Regions from separate parts of the Homo sapiens genome. Here regions 2 and 3 are each linked to region 1. The links come from fine-mapping of genetic effects on gene expression. A gene starts in region 1. Each other region holds a variant in brackets. All regions are shown on one strand. Distances are from middle to middle.

What was found. PIP is the estimated chance that this variant, and not a neighbour inherited with it, causes the effect.
Region 2: its variant is the best candidate, but not a certain one, in a credible set for the expression of EXOC4 in whole blood (TOPMed, PIP 0.52).
Region 3: its variant is the best candidate, but not a certain one, in a credible set for the expression of EXOC4 in breast (GTEx, PIP 0.84).

Annotation. Positions count from the first base shown.
Region 1 is chr7:133,247,735-133,255,438 of GRCh38, forward strand. EXOC4 (exocyst complex component 4) reads left to right here and starts at 5,344. Exons shown (of 18, transcript NM_021807.4): 1 at 5,344-5,453. The coding sequence starts at 5,368. RefSeq lists enhancers at 5,111-5,160, 5,371-5,430.
Region 2 is chr7:134,070,587-134,078,290 of GRCh38, forward strand. It overlaps LOC105375514 (a long non-coding RNA gene), which reads right to left. Exons shown (of 3, transcript XR_007060531.1): 1 at 6,452-7,704; 2 at 5,209-5,333; 3 at 1,841-1,926. It also overlaps a transcript of EXOC4 not described here. Among named protein-coding and RNA genes, the nearest start is that of LRGUK, 53 kb to the right of the region's middle. RefSeq lists an enhancer at 1,006-1,105. The variant C/T (reference allele first, on the strand shown) is at 3,772.
Region 3 is chr7:133,815,784-133,820,783 of GRCh38, forward strand. EXOC4 (exocyst complex component 4) reads left to right here. Exons shown (of 18, transcript NM_021807.4): 11 at 1,542-1,761. All of the region lies in intron 3 of LOC101928861 (a long non-coding RNA gene), which reads right to left. Among named protein-coding and RNA genes, the nearest start is that of LRGUK, 310 kb to the right of the region's middle. The variant A/G (reference allele first, on the strand shown) is at 2,292.

The sequences.
Region 1 (7,704 bases):
AATTAATTTGGGTGTGCTAATTTATTTATCACTTAATTGTATTTCCATTTTGTGATGAAAGTAGGCCATTGTTTCTGACACTTATCCAATTCTCCTTTAAAGGAAGTACTTTTGTGTATTTCTGCTTATAAAAAGCAACACCTGGAAATTTTTTTTTTTTTTTTTTTTTTTTTTAGATGGAGTCTCCTTCTGTCACCCAGGCTGGAGTGCAGTGGCACAATCTTGGCTGACTGCAACATCCGCCTCCCTGGTTCAAGCAATTCTCCTGCCTCAGCCCCCAGAGCAGCTGGGATTACAGGAGCTTGCCAACACGCCCCACTAGTTTTTATGTTTTTAGTAGAGACGGGGTTTTGCCATGTTGGCCAGGCTGGTCTCGAACTCCTAACCTCAGGTGATCCACCTGCCTCGGCCTCCCAAAGTGCTGGGATTACAGGCATGAGCCACTGTGCCCATCCCGGAAACTTTGTAAAACACAGAAAAGTGTAAAAAAAAAAAAAAAAATTACCCATGTTATTGACGCTCAAAACAACTTTGCAATAACCCCAGAGATGTATTTTCAACAAAATTAGTACCATACTTTAGTAATAATAGCTGATATTTACCAAGTGCTGATAATGTATATCTCACATATTCTTACAATAACTCTCTATGTGAAGTACAATGACCACCTGCTTTACAGATAAAGAAACTGAGGCAGAGTAAAGTTAAGTAACTTGTCCTAGGTAATCTAGCCAGGAAGTGGAAAGCTGGGATTGAATCTAGGCCATCCTGCTACACAAACTGCATTTTTTTTTAAGGTGTGGTGAAAAACACATAACATAAAATTTATGACTTTTGACTACTTTAAAGTTTATAATTTACTGACCTTTAATACATTCACAAGCTATGCAACCATTGACTGTAGTTCCAGAACATTTCATCACTCCAAAATGAAACTCTGTATCCATTGAGCAGTCATTCCTCATTTCTTCCTGCCCTGCAGCCCTTGGCAACCACTGATCTGCTTTCTGTCTCTATGAATTTGTCTGTTCTGGATATTTCAGATAAATGGGGTTATACACAATATGGCCTTTTGTGTCTGGCTTTTTTCTGTTAGCATGATTTCAAGATTTATCAATATTGTAGCATATATCAGTACTTTTTTCATTTTTATGTGTGAATAATATTACATTGTATGGATATAGCACATTTTGTTTATACCACACTGATACAGTCATATTGTTGCAGTTCATTCATTGTTAAACATTTGGACTGCTTCCACCTTTAGGCTATTTTGAATGGTGCTTTTATGAATGTTTGTATACAAGTTATTTTCCGAACACTTGTTTTCAATTCTCTTGTGCATATACCTATGAGCGGAATTGCTGGGTCATATGGTAACTTTATGTTTAGTTTTTTAAGGAACCACCAAATTGTTTTCTGCAATGGCTGAACCATTTCACATTCCCAAAATAAATGTACAAGGGTTCCAGTTTCTCCACATACTTGCCAACATTTATTTTCCATTAAAAAAATTGTAACCAACCTAGTGGGTGTGAAGTGGTATCTCATTATGGTTTTGCATTTTCCTATAATGATTAATGATGTCGAGCATCTTTTTATGTGCTTTTTGGCCATTTGTGTATCTTCTTTGGAGAAATGTCTATTCACATCCATTGCCTAGGTTTTAATTTTTATTTCCTTTTGTGTTGAGTTGTAAGAGTTCTTCACATAGTCTAGATACAGAACTCTTACCAGATACTGTATGTGATTTGCTTTTATTCTCTCCCATCCTGTGCCTGTCTTTTCACTTTCTTGAAAAGTGTACTTTGATGTATGAGGGTTTTTAATTTTAATAAAGCCCAATATACCTATTTTTTCTTTTGTTGCTTATGCTTTTGATGTCATAGCTAAGAATCATGAAAATTTACCCTTGTATTTTGTTCTAAGAGTTTTATCTCATATTTAGGTCTTTGATCCACTTTTAGTTAATTTTTGCATATTGTATGAGGTAGGGTCCATCTTCACTTTTTTGCTTATGCTTATCCAGTTTTCAACACCATCTATTGAGGAGACTATTCTTTCCTTATTGAATGGTACTGTCAGCTTTGTTGAAAATCAATTGACTGTTTGGGTGCGGTGGGTCATGCCTGTAATCCCAGCACTTTGGGAGGCTGAGGTGGGCAGATCACCTGAGGTCAGGAGTTCAAGAACAGCCTGGCCAACATGGCAAAACCCCGTGTCTACTACTTGGAAGGCTGAGGCACAAGAATTGCTTGAACCTGGGAGTCAGAGGTTACAGTGAGCTGAGATTGAGCCACTGCACTCCAGCCTGGGTGACAGAAAGAGACTTCGTCTAAAAAAAAAAAAAAAGAAAATCAATTGATCATAGATGAATAGGCTTATTTCTGTATGGCTTATTCTACTATATTTATCTATGTGTTTATTTTTATGCAAGTACCATGCTATTTTGATTACTGCGGATTTTTAGTAAGTTTTGAAATCAGGAAGTGTGAGACCTCCACATTGATTTTTTTTTTTTTCCAAGATTGCTTTGGCTATTTGGGGCTCTTTTAATTTCCGTATGAATTTCAGGATCAGTTTTTCTGTTTCTGCACAAAAAGCCTAGTGAATTTTTATCGGAATTACATTGAATTTGTAGATAGCTTTGGGAGTTTGGCCATCTTAACAATATTGAGTTTTCCAACCCATGAACATGGATGTCTTTCCATTTATTTGAGTCTTCTTGTATTTCTTGCAGCAATGTTTTGTAGCTTTCAGTGTAGCAGTCTTTCACTTTCATGGCTAAGTTTATTCGTAGGCATTTTATTCTTTTTGCTGCTATTGGAAATGGAATTGTTGTGTAAATTTCCTTTTTGGATAGTTTATTGCCAGTTTACAGAAATACCACTGATTTTCTGTTGCTATTGATTTTGTATTCTGCAACTTTGCTGAATATTTTATTAGCTCTAATAGTTTTTTGTGTGTATTCTCTAGGATATTCTATATATAAGATCATATCATCCAAAAATAGATATTGTTTTATTTCTTCCTTTCCAATCTGGATGACTTATTCATGTTCTTGCCTCATTGCTCTGGCTATAACTTGCAGTACTTTGTTGAATAGAAGTGGCAAAAAAATGGTTATCCTTTTTTTGTGTCTAATATTAGTGGGAAGGCTTTCAGTTTTTCATCGACTATGATGATTGCTGTGGGTTGTTCATAAGTACCCTTTATAGCCTATAAGAAGTTCCCTTTTATCCCTAGTTTTCTGAGTGTTTTTATTGTAAGAGTGTTTTGGATTTTGACAAAGCTTTTTTCTGCAACAGTTGAGATGATCACACACTTTTTATCCTATGTCCTACATTCTTTTTTTTTTTTTTTTTTTTTTTTGAGACAGAGTCTTGCTCTGTCGCCCAGGCTGGAGTGCAGTGGCGCGATCTCGACTCACTGCAAGCTCCACCTCCCGGGTTCACGCCATTCTCCTGACTCAGGCTCCCGAGTAGCTGGGACTACAGGCGCCCGCCAACACGCCCGGCTAATTTTTTGTATTTTTTTTTAGTAGATACAGGGTTTCACCGTGTTAGCCAGGATGGTCTTGATCTCCTGACCTCGTGATCCGCCCGCCTCGGCCTCCCAAAGTGCTGGGATTACAGGCATGAGCCACCCGGCGCCCGGCCTGTCCTGCATTCTTAACCACTAGGCCCAACTGCCTCTCCCTTTCTCTATGAATTATTTAATTTTATAGCCCAGTTTTTGTACTTATACCATAAAAATCTTTTTTTTTTTTTTTTTTTTGAGACAGAGTTTCCCTCTGTTGCCCAGGCTGGCGTGCAGTGTGCAGTGGAACGATCTTGGCTCACTGCAGCCTCCGCCTTCTAGGTTCAAGCAATTCTCATGCCTCAGCCTCCCAAGCAGCTGGGATTACAGGCACACACCACCACGGTCCGGCTAACTTTTGCATTTTTAGTAGAGACGGAGTTTCACCATGTTGGCCAGGCTTGTCTTAAACTCCTGGCCTCAAGTGGTCTGCTCGGCTCTGCCTCTCAAAAAGTGTTGGGATTACAGGTGTGAGCCATCACACTTGGCCCAAAAATCTTATTTTCTTTAAAAGCCATTAAAATTATGATTTCCAGAAGCTATATGTTATTTCCTCATTTGAATGTTACATAATTTATTTAATTCTTCTGTGTTATTTAAAAAATGTCAATACTCTATATTTCTTTAGGAACAAAGTCCCTAGAACTGGAATTATTGGGCCAAAGGTTATGAATACTTTTAAGTTATCGTGTGTGTGTGTGTGTGTGTGTTATCTTCAACTAATTTTTAAAAATGTGAACTTCTACCAGCTCGATGTCTATTTAATAAAAGTAATTGATGTGTTCTGAGCTTGCTGCTCACAACTCCATGACCTCTGAGTTAGTTTGCTTTCTATTCCTTTAAGTTCTTCAATCTTTATTGCTACTGAGCAGGCCACCTCCTTCCTTACTTTTAAATTATTATTATTCTTGTTCCTCAGTCTAACCACTTTCCACGCACATTCTGGTCTTTTTTGTTTTGTTTTGTTCATTTGGTCTTATGAATTAATGACTAAGCCAACGGAACCAAATGCAGGAAATACTAAAAACTTACCGGTAAAAGTATTAACACAAATGTGCATTACTACTAAGTATTTCATTTAGCTTGAAAAAAAAAAAAAAGGAATCTGCAGTGTGGTCTGTTTGTTTTTAGCTTATACTGTCTTTTCTTCATCAATATTCATTTATTCCTGTACGTGTGGTTTTAGAACTATCTGGAAATATAGGAACATTGGGAAAAATTGAACTCCACATAAACCTAATGTAGAAACATTAGTTTTACAGAATACTAAAGAAAAGCATTTCTGCTTATATTCATTTTCGTATTTTATTGGATTTTTTAAAAAATCACTTGCACTTAAGGCAAAAACTTCGCACATAGACATCCGGCAGAGAACCCCTCTTTCATTTAAATACAAACCCTAACACATTTTGGCATCATCAGATAAATTTGATTTAAAGCCTGACAAAATTCTAAAAGCAAGGAAACTGAAAAAAGCTGGAAGTCAGAATAAAGATAAATGAAGACACTCATTACAAGACTTAGGAAGTTGCAGCTGGTTTAGCTTTCCTGCGCGCCCAGGAGACGGAGAAGGAAAACTACGACTCCCAGAGTGCTTAGAGAGAACACGCGCGTCGTGGCCTCAAAACTTGCTCCCTTAGTCCCGCCTCCTCACTTCAGTGATTGGATTTTCCACTTCCGCGCCTCTGGAATTCTCTTCACCCATTGGTGGAGACTCCTGCGGGGTCAAATACAGAATTTACGCACCCTTGGCTTCCTTGGAGCCTAGCGGCTCTCCCCGCGTCCAAGATGGCGGCAGAAGCAGCTGGTGGGAAATACAGAAGCACAGTCAGCAAAAGCAAAGACCCCTCGGGGCTGCTCATCTCTGTGATCAGGTGAGGGAGGCAGGAGGCAGGGTCTGGGGACTGGGGGCAGCGGCTCGACCTCCGCTTTGGAAGGGAGAAGGGTTAGCTGGGTCCCACCCTGCTCTCCCCTTTCCTCCTTGCCTCCCGCAGCCCCTCCCCAGGGCTCTAACCCCTCCCCAGGGCCCCAGCAATTCCCCCTCCACCTTTTTTTTCTGGGGTTAGCTATAGAGAGAGGAGCCCCGCCTCAGTCTTTTCTTTAGGGGCAGCACCTTCTATTACAGTCTCGGGACCCCAAAGCACGCTATTTGGGTTTGGTAGAGAAAACCAGGTGTAAAGGTGTGTTTATTGATTCCTAAAATGCTTGTTTATTGTTTGCCTGTAGCAGCACTCACTGAGAAAGGCGTCTTGTTTCCTGGACTTTGGGGTGTAAGGCCTTGGAGTCCGGAGATTCCTGTCACGAGTTGCAGATTTGTGTTTTCACACTCTGGATACTTTCAACCACCTGTGCGTGGCCACAGCCACAAATACAAGAATCTGCAGTGAGCTGGTAGGAGGACTGGGTTTGAAGGCACACATCGGTTTTCAATTTTTTGCCCTGCCTCCGCATTCTGGTCCATTCCTTAAAAAACAGAACCAAACCAATTTCAAATTATCCTCCATGCACTGCCCCTCTGCACCTCCCAGAAGATTAGGGTGGGGGTGGAGTGGGAGCGGTGGATCTTTTAGGAGCTTTTTTTTAAAAAAGCGAAATATATTGAGGATGGGGGAACCCTTTCAAGAATCTTGGATATGATGCAGGTACTGACTAAAACCAATCTAAATAAAATTTATTATGGCACGTTTTTTACGTTGTTGGCATTTGAATTTCAACTCGTTTATTTTTCATAAACAAACACTCTATTTTTCCCCACCTATACTAAACTTTTGTTTGAGTTCTTGCAAGTTTTCTGGAATGTATTGATCATCTTTTCAAAACCCAGGGCCCAACATTATCTGGTAGGTACTAAGCACTTCAATGAATGCATGTATCAAACCATTAGAACAGCTTACCACTCACTGACAAAGACACATCTTATGGGTCTTATTTAGGAGGCTTTAAGATTATGGCCTATTAAATCATTACTTTAATTTTCTTTTGGGCTTAAGAGAAAAACATCTCTGTGTGGAAATGCTTAATATACTTGGTAGGCCATACAGAGGAAGTGCTGTTGTATTGTGAATCTATAGGCCCACATTCTCGCTGTGACAATACGCAGGTAGTGTAGATGTATCTCATGATACTAAAATTCCAATAAGAATGTTTGTTGTTTCCCATCTGAATTTCCTGTGGAATTAGAATACCAGGACATTATTTGGATCCTTTTTTGAACTTGTTTGTTTTTTCTACCTTATAGTCAACATTTATTTAAACAATAGGTATTTAGTGCCAGTTGACAGTATGGCGTCTGGCACGTATTACATATTGAATAATATTTGTTGACTTAATGAGTAAATGCCCTGAGTTTTGCAAAGATGAAGCAGGCACAGTGTTACCCTTGAGGAGAGTATAGTTTACCTGGGGGATAAAACATGTCAGTAAAAATGATGACATAAGACTACGAGAGAGACATGAAATGTTATGGAAATCCAGGAGGAGTGGCTGTTTCTAATGAAAGTGAAATGTGTCATCTCATCTGTGTACTTTTGATTCTCCAGGCTGTTCCCATTTCTTTTATGCTATTTGTATTTTCCTCAGGGCCAGTTGAATTTACTCTAAATGTCATATTTTTGAAAACAGCATGAAAGCCAACCTAAAGCTTTTTTTACTAATGCTAATTCAGAACATACATTGCCTTTGCTTGACCATTCCTTAATATTCTCCAGGAGGAACCCCCTACTGCTTGATGGCTAAGATTTTGTGGTTATCCATCCATCTCTTATGCCAGTTTATTAATATATGACCTTCATTTTATCACTGTGATTTAGGCCTAGGTATTTTTTACTTTGATCTCTGTTGTGCATTATATTGCTTTTCTTTTCTTTTCTTTTCTTTTTTTTTGAGACAGAGTCTTGCTCTGTCCCCAGGCTGGAGTGCAGTGGCGCGATCTCGGCTCACTGCAACCTCCGCCTCCCAGGTTCAAGTGATTCTTCTGCTTCAGCTTCCCGCATAGCTGGGATTATAGGCGTGCGCCACCACACCCACCTAATTTTTGTATTTTTGGTAGATACAGGGTTTCACCATATTGGCCAGGATGGTCTCGATCGCTTGACCTTGTTGTCTGCCTGCCTTGGCCTCCCAAAA
Region 2 (7,704 bases), 820 kb after region 1:
TGAAACGTACACCATGTGAGGAGAGGCTGCTTTAACATGTCTGGGCCAAAGACGCGTCTGTAATTAAAAATATTGCCAGGACATTTACACACCTGGAGCAAGAGTCCCTGGGAACCTAAGAACGCAATGACTTGTAAAAGCCACATGCATACTATTAAGATGTATGTGACCACTTATGTGTGTACAAATAACTGGAAAAAAAATAAAAGGAACTTAGGTGTTTTCGGGTGAGTGCAGTTCCCATTTTCCTTGATCTCATTTAGAAAGGTGACCTCAGATTCCTGCTGACTTTGCAATAGATACTCTAGCAGGAACCTGATTCCAAACAGAAAACCCAGCAATCTTCTCATCCCAAACTGATTTAATTATCACCAGCTCAAGTTTTCTTTCACACAAGGATTTATTTACTGTGTGAGAGAGATCAGGAAACCATTAGTAGCTGGTTTTTGTGGTTGTTTTTATTTTATGATTGCTACTACGTTATTCTAGACACCATTTATGGAACACTTCATGTGTATCAGGTGCTGTGCTAAATGCTTTACCACATTATTTCATTTAATCCTCACAATAATCCTACAAGATGTATATTATTATCATCCCTACTTTACAGAGGAAACTAAGGCTCGGATTAAGGGCTTTGCACCAGATCTGGTAAGTGAGCCAGCTCTGCCCAACACCAGAGTTCATTCTGGAACCGTAGCCAAATCCAAAGCTCATACCACTCGTCTCACAACAGCCAATAAGACAAGACATACTCAACTATTCTTTCCAAATAAAGGAAAGTGACTTTATTTCAGGAAGCCAGCAAACTGAGAAGATGGCAGACTGGTGTCCTAAAGGACCATCTTCAAAGGTATGAATCTCAAGCTTCTTTTTATATTGGGTAAAGGGAACAAGGAGGGGGTTAAGGTCAGGAGGTGACAGGTGACCACAGACATCTGGGTGTCAGCAAGAGTCTGAGGGAGTTTCATAACTTCTTTTTCTTTGTTCAGGTCACAGCACTCCTACAAGTCTTTAGCATAACATTGTTCTTGGGTGTATGCCCTTCTTATCTCCTCAGGGGTTAGTTTGGGGAAGGCCCTATTATCATCCTTGCTTTAAAGTTAAGCTATACACTAAATTCCTCCCATAGTTAGCTGGGCCTACATGCAGGAATGAGCAAAGGCAGTTTGCTTGGGGGTTAGAAGCAAGATGGAGTCAACTATGCTAGATTTCTCTCACTGCTACAGAACCCCCCTCTGTGCTATTTTGAGCCAAACCCCCTTGTCTAGTGTGGCAAAGGCAGGGACTCTCACATGCTATATTTGAGCCCCAAGTGATACTGGTAGTCTGACTCATCCATTCACCCTGTCCTCTCCTGTAACCTCCAGCAGGAACCATTTCTGGACCACATTTGGGGCCACCATTGCCCACTCTCCTCTCTGCTTCTCCTCCACCCACAGCTGCCTGAGCCCATCCCTGTGACCAGTACATTGACAGAAATCTTGGAAACACAAACCTTTGGTTCAGGGGCTGACCCCCCACCAGTTGGAGGCTGGAGATAACCCCAAGAGGTTGAAGCTAAATGCTCAGGTTCTAGAATCTGGTGTATCTTGGCTCAACATGTTGCCTTAGCCTTCATAGGGGAGGCAACTTATCTTTTCCTTCTATCTATCTTAGGTTCATTGTCTGGAACCCCTGTAACAAAAGACAGATTAAGAAGAAGAAAGCATACTAATTTATTTAATGTAAGTTATACATGAAAAAAAATGAAGACCTGAAGAAGTAATTAAACCTGGGTGGGGTTTTGCTGCTGTTTGTGGTGGTGGTGGTGATGGTGTTTTCGAGGCAGGGTCTCGCTGTATCGCCCAGCCTGGTCTCTCACAGGAGGGTCTTAGGCCTGCTTCAGGGGAAGGTCAGAAAAGTCTTCCTAGGTTTTAGGACCTGCTGCAGAGGGGAAAGAAGAGGAATGGCCAGGGGAGGTCAGAGAAACCTTCCTGAACATGCTGTTTCTCAAATTCCTTCTGCTTAAACTGTTCGCTATGCTAAGGTGCCAGATTTGGGAGTAGCGTGTCCTGAAGACCATCAACTTTGCAGGTGGTTTGATGTGGTTACAAGTGCTTAAAAATGCCCTCTGTTGCCTCATCTTTGAAATGGGATAACAGTGATACTAATAGCTCCTGTCCAACAGAGGCATTCAGTGCCTGGCATGTCATTAGTATTATATATACATAACAAATAATATCCTGTCTGTTTCTTTGAGGAGTTTCAGACACACTATCAAGAAAGCCTGCTGTGTTGAAGTGTAAGAGTGCAGCCCCGCTTACAGCGCTTCTTGGTTAGAAAGGCCCAGGCTAGGCTGGGCATGGTAGCTCATGCCTGTAATCCTGGCACTTTGGGAGGCCGAGGCAGGTGGATCACTTGAGGTCAGGAGTTTGAGACCAGCCTGGCCAACATGGTGAAACCCCATGTCTACTAAAAATACAAAAAGTTAGCCGGGCATAGTGGCGGGTGCTTATAATCCCAGCTACTCAGGAGGCTGAGACAGGAGAATCGCTTGAACCTGGGAGATGGAGGTTGCAGTGAGCCAAGACCATGCCATTGCACTCCAGCCTGGGCAACAGAGAGAGACTTCCTCTCAAAAAAAAAAAAAAAAAAAAAAAAAAACAACAAAGAAAGGCCCCAGGCTATGGCAGGGTGGACCCAAGACTGTTACTTGCTGTATGTGGACACCTAAAGGCCCCCAGAACCATCCATCCTCATCATAGAAACTGGACGTTCTGATCTTACACGATTGTTTCAGCCCCCTCCCCACACATGCCGACTGCCCTCAGTGTCTGCTTCCTTAAGCCTGCTTCCATTTTAGCTATTAGCGAGGGTTTTGCATCTCGTTGCCTGCCAGCATATTATGTGCATCTCATTAACTCTGAAGGCTCCACTACCCTTTAGGGACCAGACCTTCACAGACGTAATGGCCTTCTGCCTGAGGTTTGAGTTTGCTGTTACTCTTTCTACCTTGGCTGAGGAATGTCAGCCCATGGATTTCTAATAAGTTCACAAATTGCTCTATGAAATTGAGGTGAGAAAAATGTCACATTCTTTTTTTTTTTAATTTTTAAAAATCAAATCTGGCTTGGAGCCCCCACTTAACCATTCTCAGCAGAAGTCCGACTCCAGTCATTGTGATTTACTCACAGGCAGGGGATGGGGGTTTTGGTGAGAGGCTTCCCCTCCTTCAGGTTGCACCAACACCCTGCTGCTGAAGCAGGTCAGGAGAGCGGGGTGAGCACTACGTCATCAGGGCATCCTGATCACTCTTTCCCCGGGCTCCTTCTGCGACACAGTGAAGACTCTAAACACTGTCTGGTGCTGTCGTCAGGCCCTGCCCTCCACAGGCAGAGTCTTTTCTAGTGTGCCCAGGCTTTGTTCCGGGGACCTCCAGGCCTCAGTGTCCATCCACCACAGGCATCCCTCACAGTTGCCTGACACGAGGTCCTGCCCTCTGTGGGCACTGTGAGCTGGATGTCGTGGAGCTACCGTGCATGCTACAGCCCTTGTCTCTTCTCAGCTTTGGGGGACCCAACACTCCAGGTTGGGCAGTTCTCTCCTCTTTCCTCCTGACCCCAGAGTCTCTTTCCTTTCTGCCACTGGGAGAGCAAACCCTCCTTCCCTGGGCCTAGACCTTTCAAAACAATAGGCTGCTGGAGGGATTATCTGAGTGAAGATAAGTTTTCTCTCTCTCCTCCCCTCCCTTCTTCTCCCCTTTCTTTTCTTTTGCCCTGAAACAAGAAG[C/T]TTGTTAACCAGACTTCTGAGGATAAAGAGAGCCTGGACTCAAGAGCAATCCCCAGGTAACCCTATAGGGTGGCAGTGGGAATCTTTTATCCTAATTTTGGGTGGGGGGTTGGCATCAATTACTTTCTCAATAACACCTGTTGTGGATTCATAGAAATGGATAGAACCTGAGAGAGCTTCCGTCCCAACCATCTCATTTTTCAAAGGAGCCAGAGGAGCAAAGGGAGGAGGCCCAAGAGGAGAGTGGGGATGCCTAGTTCATGTCTGAGCCAGGACCAGCATCCAGGTCTCGACTGCCACTCCCAGGATCCTGCATTTGGGAGCCCCCAGGTGAATCATGCTGTTAGACTGCCAAGTGGAGGGATAGAGGCAAGGTCCTGCCTTCAAAGACATGAATGTCGCATGGAAAGAACAGGGCAACACACACGAATCCACTATGGAGTATCGTAAGCCAGTGTACCACTGAAGGCTCACGGAGCATTTCTGAGGAACTCAGTAAAACGAATAATGATTGTAGACTATCGTTAGTCAAATACAACTTAACTGGGAAAATGGAACTGGACCATGGTCTTGAAAAACAAGTGGAGCTAGAGAATCAATGTGAGGGCTGAGATGAAGGTATGCAGTTTGTCAACCTCCACAGTATAAAAAAAAAGTAAGCAAAGAAAGTGAAGCAAAAGAAAACTCAGGAGTATGAGGAGGATCAGCACAGTGCAGTCATGAAAACTAGCCAAGGCAAACCTGCCTAGCAGGAGGCCTGGCACATTTTGGATGTTCTTGACTTCTTTTTTCTTACCTTGCTGGCAGTCAGCAGATACATGGGATCTTTGAACCCTCTAGAATTACATGCATACAGCATGGGTGATTTGGGGTGATGGTGTATAAGTGCATTATATGAAATCAGGTCTGAGGTTTTCATTAGGTTCTCAATATATCTTGCTCTCCCTCTTCCAGGAATATAGTAGGATTGCATTTCTGAGCCTGTATTAGTCCGTTTTTACACAGCTGATAAAGACATACCCAAGACTGAGTAGTTTATAAGGAAAAAGGGGTTTAATGGACTCACAGTTCCGCATGGCTTGGGAGACCTCACAATCATGGTGGAAGGCAAAAGGCTTGTCTTAGATGGCAGCAGGTAAGACAGAATGAGAGCCAAGTGAAAGGGGAAACCCCTTATAAAACCATCAGATCTCATGAGACTTATTCACTACCGCAGAACATTGTGGGGGAAACTGCCCCCATGATTCAGTCATCTCCTACTGGGTCCCTCCCACCACACGTGGGGATTATGGGGGCTACAACTCAAGATGAGATTTGGGTGGGGACACAGCCAAACCATATCAGGGCTCTTCTGTGTTTGGGTGGTACCATGGGATTAGGTGGCCAATAAGTTATGAGTAGAAGGGTGTCACTTCCCAACCAAAGCCATTTAATTACCTGTGTGAAACCCTCCAGAGCTCAGTGCCCCCTCTGTCACAATGGCCAGCAATGTTCCAGATAGTGACCACTCACTCAGCTAGGGTTCCAGAGGGAGGAAGATGCAGAGCAGAGCCCCAGCTGACCTGCAGTGGACATATGAGGTAAGTAAGAAATACATCTTTGTTGTTTAAAGCCATTGACATTTTGAGATTGTTTGTTACTGCAGCCTAACCCTCCCTATCCTGACTGATACACACAACGAAGAGGCTGATCACAGTGAGGAGAGCAGAAAGAGCAAGGGAATTTCAATGAGGGATGAAATTTTGACTTTAAAGAGAACTAGTTGAGTGGAGGATTGAGAATAAGAGCCAAATTTAGAGGCTGAAGGATGAGAAAAGATAGTGATTTCCCAACAAGTCCTCAGTCAGTACATGTCTGTCCTAAAGACAGAAGCAACAAGGCTGGGCGCAGTGGCTCACACCTGTAATCCCAGCACTTTGGGAGGCCGAGGCAGGTGGATGACGAGGTCAGGAGATCAAGACCATCCTGGCTAACACGGTGAAACCCCGTCTCTACTAAAAATACAGAAAAATTAGCTGGGCGTGGTGGCAGGCACCTGTAGTCCCAGCTACTCGGGACGCTGAGGCAGGAGAATGGTGTGAACCTAGGAGGCGGAGCTTGCAGTGAGCCGAGATCACGCCACTTCACTCCAGCCTGGGGAACAGAGCGAGACTCTGTCTCAAAAAAAAAGACAGAAGCAACAAGTATGTGTTGTTCACTCAAGGAGTGTATTAGCCAGGGTTTTCCAGAGAAATAGAACCAATAGCATATATATATATCTCTCTTTAACATATATGTACATATCCAACATATAAACAAAAAATATATAAATATATATCTAACATAGAAAAAACTATCATCTATAATTGTATATATATATATATATGTATATCTCAATAAATGAACAACAAATATTCTTCACTTTTTTGTGCTAACCTTGTTAGAACTCAGCAGATACATGGAATCTTTGCACCCCTAGAATTACATATACAGATGATCAATGACTTACAATGGTTGGACGTAAAATTTTTTGGCTTTACAATGGTTCAAAAGCAATATTCATTCAGTAACACTCCATAACTTACATCCTGATAAACCCATCATAAGTTGAGGATCTGCATATGTGTGTGTGTGTGTATAATAGAGAGAACAGAGCAAGAGAGAGAGAGATGAGGAGACAGAATTATGGGAGTTGGCTCACATGATTATGGAGACTGAGAAGTTCCCTAATCTGCCATCTGCAAGCTGAAGAATCAGGAAAGCTGGTGATGTAATTCAGCCCAGGTCTGGAGGCCTGAAAACGAGTAGAGCCAGTGGTGTAACTTTCAGTGGGGGAGTTGAAGGTGGGGGACTGGTCTAAGTCTCAGAGTACAAAGGCTCAAGAACCAAGAGCTCCAATGTTTACAGACAGAACAATATGGATGTCCCAACTCAAAGAAAGAAGGAAAGACTTGTCCTTCCTCCACCTTTTTATTCTATCAGGGCCTTCAACAAATTGGATGATGCTTACCCACATTGGTGAGGACAGATCTTTACACAGCCTACTGCTTCAAATGCTAAGCCCTTCCAGAAACACCCTCACAGACAAACCCAGAAATAATGTCTTACCAGCTATCTGGGCATCCCTTAGCTCAGTCAAGTTGACATATAAAACTAACCACTGTTGCGGGATTCAGGAGGACGAGAGAGACCTCAGGTTGAAACAGGAGAATCTTTATTGAGTGCGCTCAGGCCCAGCTGACTCACCTCCAAAAAATTGGGCCCAGAACAAAGACCGCACCTGAATTTTATACACACTTCACAAAAGGGGGTGGGCTAGCTTAAAGCAAGCTTACAGGGGCATGAAAGCAGGGATACAGAGGGAGGACAAAGACAGGATTGCACATGACTGTTGCCAAGCAACCCAGATGTCTGTTATCTAGGTTTGTCTGAGCACAGGCTTATCCTGTAACCTTCACTATGGTGCCCAGGCAGCTGTAGTTCAGGCCTACTCAGGCTCCTCATGACCTTCATTGTACTTCTTAGATAAAACAGAATACTTGAAGTCACTAGTTACAGAGAATAGGAATCTATAAACTCATTCCATAAAACAAAGGAAAATTTGTTTTTCTTCTCCTTATGTTGAGGGAGTGCTGGGAGAGTCTCCAGAGCACATTAGATAATATTATCAAGACTTTTCCTGGATCTGGCTGTGCCTGTTGCTGCCTCTGGGACAAGTCAGCCTAATACAGGAAAACTTATTTTGCTTTCTTTTTAATTTGATTTTTCTTTAATTTCCTGCATCAACCATCACAGTGAGCAATCCTGGATCCCCCCAGTTTATTTATGTCTTTTGCTTTACCCCCCTTTTTCATTTATTTGAACTCCTGTAGTATTAGTGAGCTCAGATACATAGGTCTTAATTCAGTGTCTCTGAGTACTCACAGGAAAGCTTCTATGTAAATCCAACACATA
Region 3 (5,000 bases), 570 kb after region 1:
CTTCAGTCTGGCTATGCCTCTCCAATGGCAGCAGTGTCAACATTCCCAGGGTCAGCTCTTTCTCCTGTAACTCCGTTTACATTCAGTTCAAATTTCACTTCCAGTGTTATCACTTTGCGGTACTTTTATCTTTGTTGGCCAATTCCCTCTTTCATTGATCCATTTTTATAAAATGCCACATGGATTTATCAGTGGGGGACAGGGAGGCACCACAGCTGCTTGCTTTGCTCCCTGTCCATGAAGTGAATAACAAATGCACAGTGACCAGTTGCTAATAGACATTGGAAGAAGGGATGTGATTGGTCACTAATCATGATGAACACACATCAGTTATTTACACAGGGATTTCAGAGGAGCTACCAACAAAGTTTATACTTTAGTTACTTAAGTTTAATGTACTGTGGTGACTACACTGTGGTATTGAGGTATTTAAACTATGTAATTGATGGACTGATGTTATTTAACTAAAAAACAGTAGTAACTTCAATTTGTTCATATTAAACCACACAAATCAGGGCTGCCTGTATAGAAAATTAAAAAGAATTTAATAATAAATTTATTTTGTTATTAAAATAAGAATTTTAATAAATCTATACTCATCTCTGAGACTTGACAATCATTAACATTCTGTTATGTATTCTTTAAGGGTTTTTAATAGAGGAAGTAGATCATTGCAAGTAAGGTTGAAGTTCTCCTTTGTCCTCCAACTCCCATCCCATTCCCTTTCTTAACCTCTGAACTCACATATCATCATGAATTTTAGAGTATCCTTCATTCTCTCTCTGTTTCTCTCTTTTTGACATTTATATATATACATGTAAAGCAGCAATCCCCAACCTTTTTTGGCACAAGCACTGGCTTCATGGAAGACAATGTTTCCACGGACAAGGGTTGGGGGAAAGATGGTTTCGGAATGAAATTTCCACCACAGGTCAGATATTAGACTCTCATAAGGAACATGCAACCTAGATCCCTCACATGCACAGCTCACGGTAGGGTTCATGCTTCTATGACAATCTAATGTGATTGCTGATCTGACAGGAGGCGGAGCTCAGGTGGTAATGCTCGCCCAGCTGGCTGCTCACCACCTGCTGTGCGGTCTGGTTCCTAACAGGCCACAGACCCGTACTGGTTCATCGCCCGGTGTGGGGGTAGGGGGACCCCTGATGTAAAGGTTTCGGTGGGAAATATGTACTCTTCGGGGATGTGCTTTTTAATTTCACAATAATTTGTGTTTTTTGTTTTTCACATTTTCCCATTGTTTCTTGTAGTCTTATCTCCTTCTGGAATTAAAAATAATTTTTGTCTTCTCCTTTTCCCCCCATTTTTAGAAGTCATGTTTTCTGTTTCATCCTATTTCTATTCAATTAGTGGAGTAATTTAGATTTTTACAAGATTAAAAATTATATAGAGATGAGTATTATTGATGACCTGCCCTCTTCACAGAAATAGCCAACACTAGATATACTCATGTCCTCATGTCGTATTTATATAACATTTTCCTCATAAATTTAATAACCTTCTTACTGTTTGTCCTCCAGATTTATTCAGGAGATTGAGCATGCTCTGGGTCTTGGCCCAGCCAAACAGTGTCCTCTTCGAGAGTTTCTCACCGTGTACATCAAAAACATCTTTCTCAATCAAGTCTTGGCTGAGATCAACAAGGAGATTGAAGGAGTCACTAAAACATCTGACCCTTTGAAGATTCTGGCCAACGCAGACACCATGAAGGTGCTGGGAGTGCAGCGGCCTCTCCTACAGGTAATAATACACTTTGAACTTACTATTTTTATCAGCAATTTTCATTGACTTGGCAAGTGTCATAAATTTAAAAAAGAAGAATTACCATCTGTTTCCATATTCATCAGGGACAAAACAAAAGAAAATAAATAGGCACTAGGGAAATTTAGATTTAATGTAGTTGGATAATGGAAGTTCCTTAAGATCTTTAAGGAAAATTAAAAAAAAAAACGGTTAGCTTTGGATATGAGAGATGGTGAATCTCATTAACATGCAGGCAGTTCCTCATTATTATGCCTGGAATTGGTCCTTGAAAGGAACTATTTTTCCATTGGTGAATGCATCCCTGAGTATGAAGGATTAACAGGAAGGAAGCTATGATGCCCAACTTCAATTACCAGCAGGAAACCCTCTATACCTTTTAGGGGCAGACTTACCTTTCAATGACTTGGCTACCTCACAGGGAATTTGAACCAGTAAACTGACCTTTAAAAGTCAAATCACTGAATTCACATGATGATCTTGTTAGTACTGAAAATTTTACTTTATAT[A/G]AAAAAATGGTTTCTTAGCATCAGAAAAAATAAAATAATCTGTCAGTAGATTTTTTGATTAATAGGCTTGAGGCATATATTTTATATACATTTTAGCTGGTGACTTGGAGGTATATATAAAACTAAAACAAAATTAGTAGGAGTTTAAATTATAGGTATACATTAACTATTATTACGTTGGAATTGAATCCTTATTGTGTTTCTTCATTTAAGAGTAGGATGGGCACAGTCTCACACTTTTACCTAAATTGTACAATATGAGACTATTCAACATGTGGAAGGCTTGAGCTTTTCAAAGAGAAGTTGTATATATGGAAGGGAGTTTTACTTGTTCCAGTTGCCTGCCCTTACCTGCCTTTACATATGTTTCCCTTGATTTTTCTTTGTATGTTAGAATTTACAGAAGTGCTGGACCTTTCTTAGAGAAGCGTCCTAGTTATGAGCATTCTTTTTTATGAGCAAGCTCTTTTATGATATTGATAAAATAGAATAGGAAGATGTTCATTTGGATGGTCTGGGTCTCTGTTAGCCATGTGCCTGGTGAGGGATCTGTACTGAGTGTTGGGTGCAGAGAAGGGGGAATGCCAAAGGAACGTGCTTGCTCTTCCTTCTGCTGGATATCTCTTCCGGCTCTTTGCATGGCTGGGGTCTTCTCCTCTCTGGGTGTCACTTAAAATGTCATGTCCACTGGAAGGCTTTTCCTGACTGTCCTACCTAATTAGGTCCCCTTTCCTGGTTATTCTCCATTCTCCCATTTTTCCTTACCACCAGCCCCATCCATTGTCAATACTGAGGCCAAACCCTATGGACTGTGTCTGTGGACTGTGTCATGGAGGCCCCCTTGCCAGGTAGCTTCTGATCAGGTTCTGCCGATAGGCAGCACAAGTAGAAGATTGGAAAGTGGGAGGAGAAAGAGGGTGGGTGATTTCTTCTCCCCTTCCTCTTCACTTTGGATCATGGCCCTGGCTGTGAGTGCCTCCCTCCATAACAGGAGATCCTGCCAGGTGACACATCCTCCATAGCTCCAGCTCTCACTGGACTCTGGCAATGTCATTTCTTCTCCTTGCCTCTTGATTTCAGCTTTCTGCTGTTACAACCTCTGGATGCCTCAGTATCCCTTGTTCCTGCTTTCAACCCTGCCCATACCTCTGTAAGTTATTTCTTCATTCATATTTCTTTATTTGAATTATCTAAATGGAATACTTTTTTTTTTTTTGTCAAGATCCCAGATAGATCTCCCCAGTTAATCAGGATTTTAACACTTTGGTTTTTTCTTCCTAACACTTATCACAACCCTAATTATTAATTAATTTTGCTAACTTGTATATTTTCTATCCTTTCCCACTAGAAGGTAAGTTCCAAACACATATTATAATGTCAGGCAGCAGGAAGGTGCTCAATGAATAACTTACTGGATGAATGCATGTTGCATGGATGGATGGATGGATGGATGGATGGATACAGTGAATAAGTTTCGAGAGTCATAAGTACCCACAGAGTCAGAATAAGGAGATGAGAAATAGAGAGTAACAAAAATATGTTTACTTTTATGTGTTGTCTGACCATATCATTAGCCTCATTTCCATCAGAAAGCCTTTCAGTATTTATTTCTCTGAAGTGTCACGCTATATGCCATACAGAGCAACTTGAACATGTTTAGTGCACTGAATTTAAAAGGAAAAAAAAGGCATCAGTACATTACAGAGTGAGTCTGTGAACCAATAATACTGGCTTATTAAATGTGATAATTTGCAGCTTCAGTAGCAAAGATGCATTAAAATCATAACTCATTGATCTGGGCCATGTCAAGGCCATATGCTACCAACAAAATGACATATCTGGGCAGTCTGTCCATGTGCCTGTCAGATCACTCCCAACCTCATCACCGCCATTTTGTACATGTTACTGTGCCTCTTGTCCTTTAAGTCACCGTGAGGCTAGGTAAGAACTCCAGCTTTACCTGTTCTCTCTTTGACCTTGTCAACATATAATTATATATAAGTGAATAAGTCTTGAGGCTAAGACCATTCAAGCTATTAACCTGCAAATTTTTTTTTCTAGAGTTAACACACCTGCTTCATTTTTTTTTTTTTTTTTTTTTTTGGTGATTATGTTGCTCTCCTTTTTTTCATTAAAAAAATTTATTTTATGAAAATGCAAATTATTTAAACCATATCACTAAGTTTGTTTAATATTCTCAGAGAGAGTTATGCAGTTTAAAAAGCAAACAAGGAGATGGTTATTTTTTTTTCCTATCTTTGGTATTTTCCTGCATTATAGTGATTGTAAATTGTTTTCTAATAATTCCCCATACTCAAGCTTCATTCTTTTTTTGTCTTCCTCTACAAGCACAGGGTGAATTTTATTCTTGAATTTTTTCTATGTTTCCTTAATATTTTATTCCCAGCTAATTGTAGGTGGCTAATCTGAAAAAAGAATAAGAAATAATTCTCAAAAATTTTAGCTGAGAATCCAAAACAAATGTTAAGAAGGAGCTTGGAGAAATATGTGTGTGCGTGAAAGATGCATGTGGGTTAAATATTCAATTACAGGAAGTATAAAAATGTCCTTTAAAATTCTTCCCTTTGCTAAACTGTTGTTTGGTCACAGAGTAGAAGAGAGGACATGCCTTTCCCTGTGGCAACACCCAGTGTCACACAGCATCAGCCCAGCCGGATTCTCCAGGGAGGGTGGGAGGACAGCTGTCTC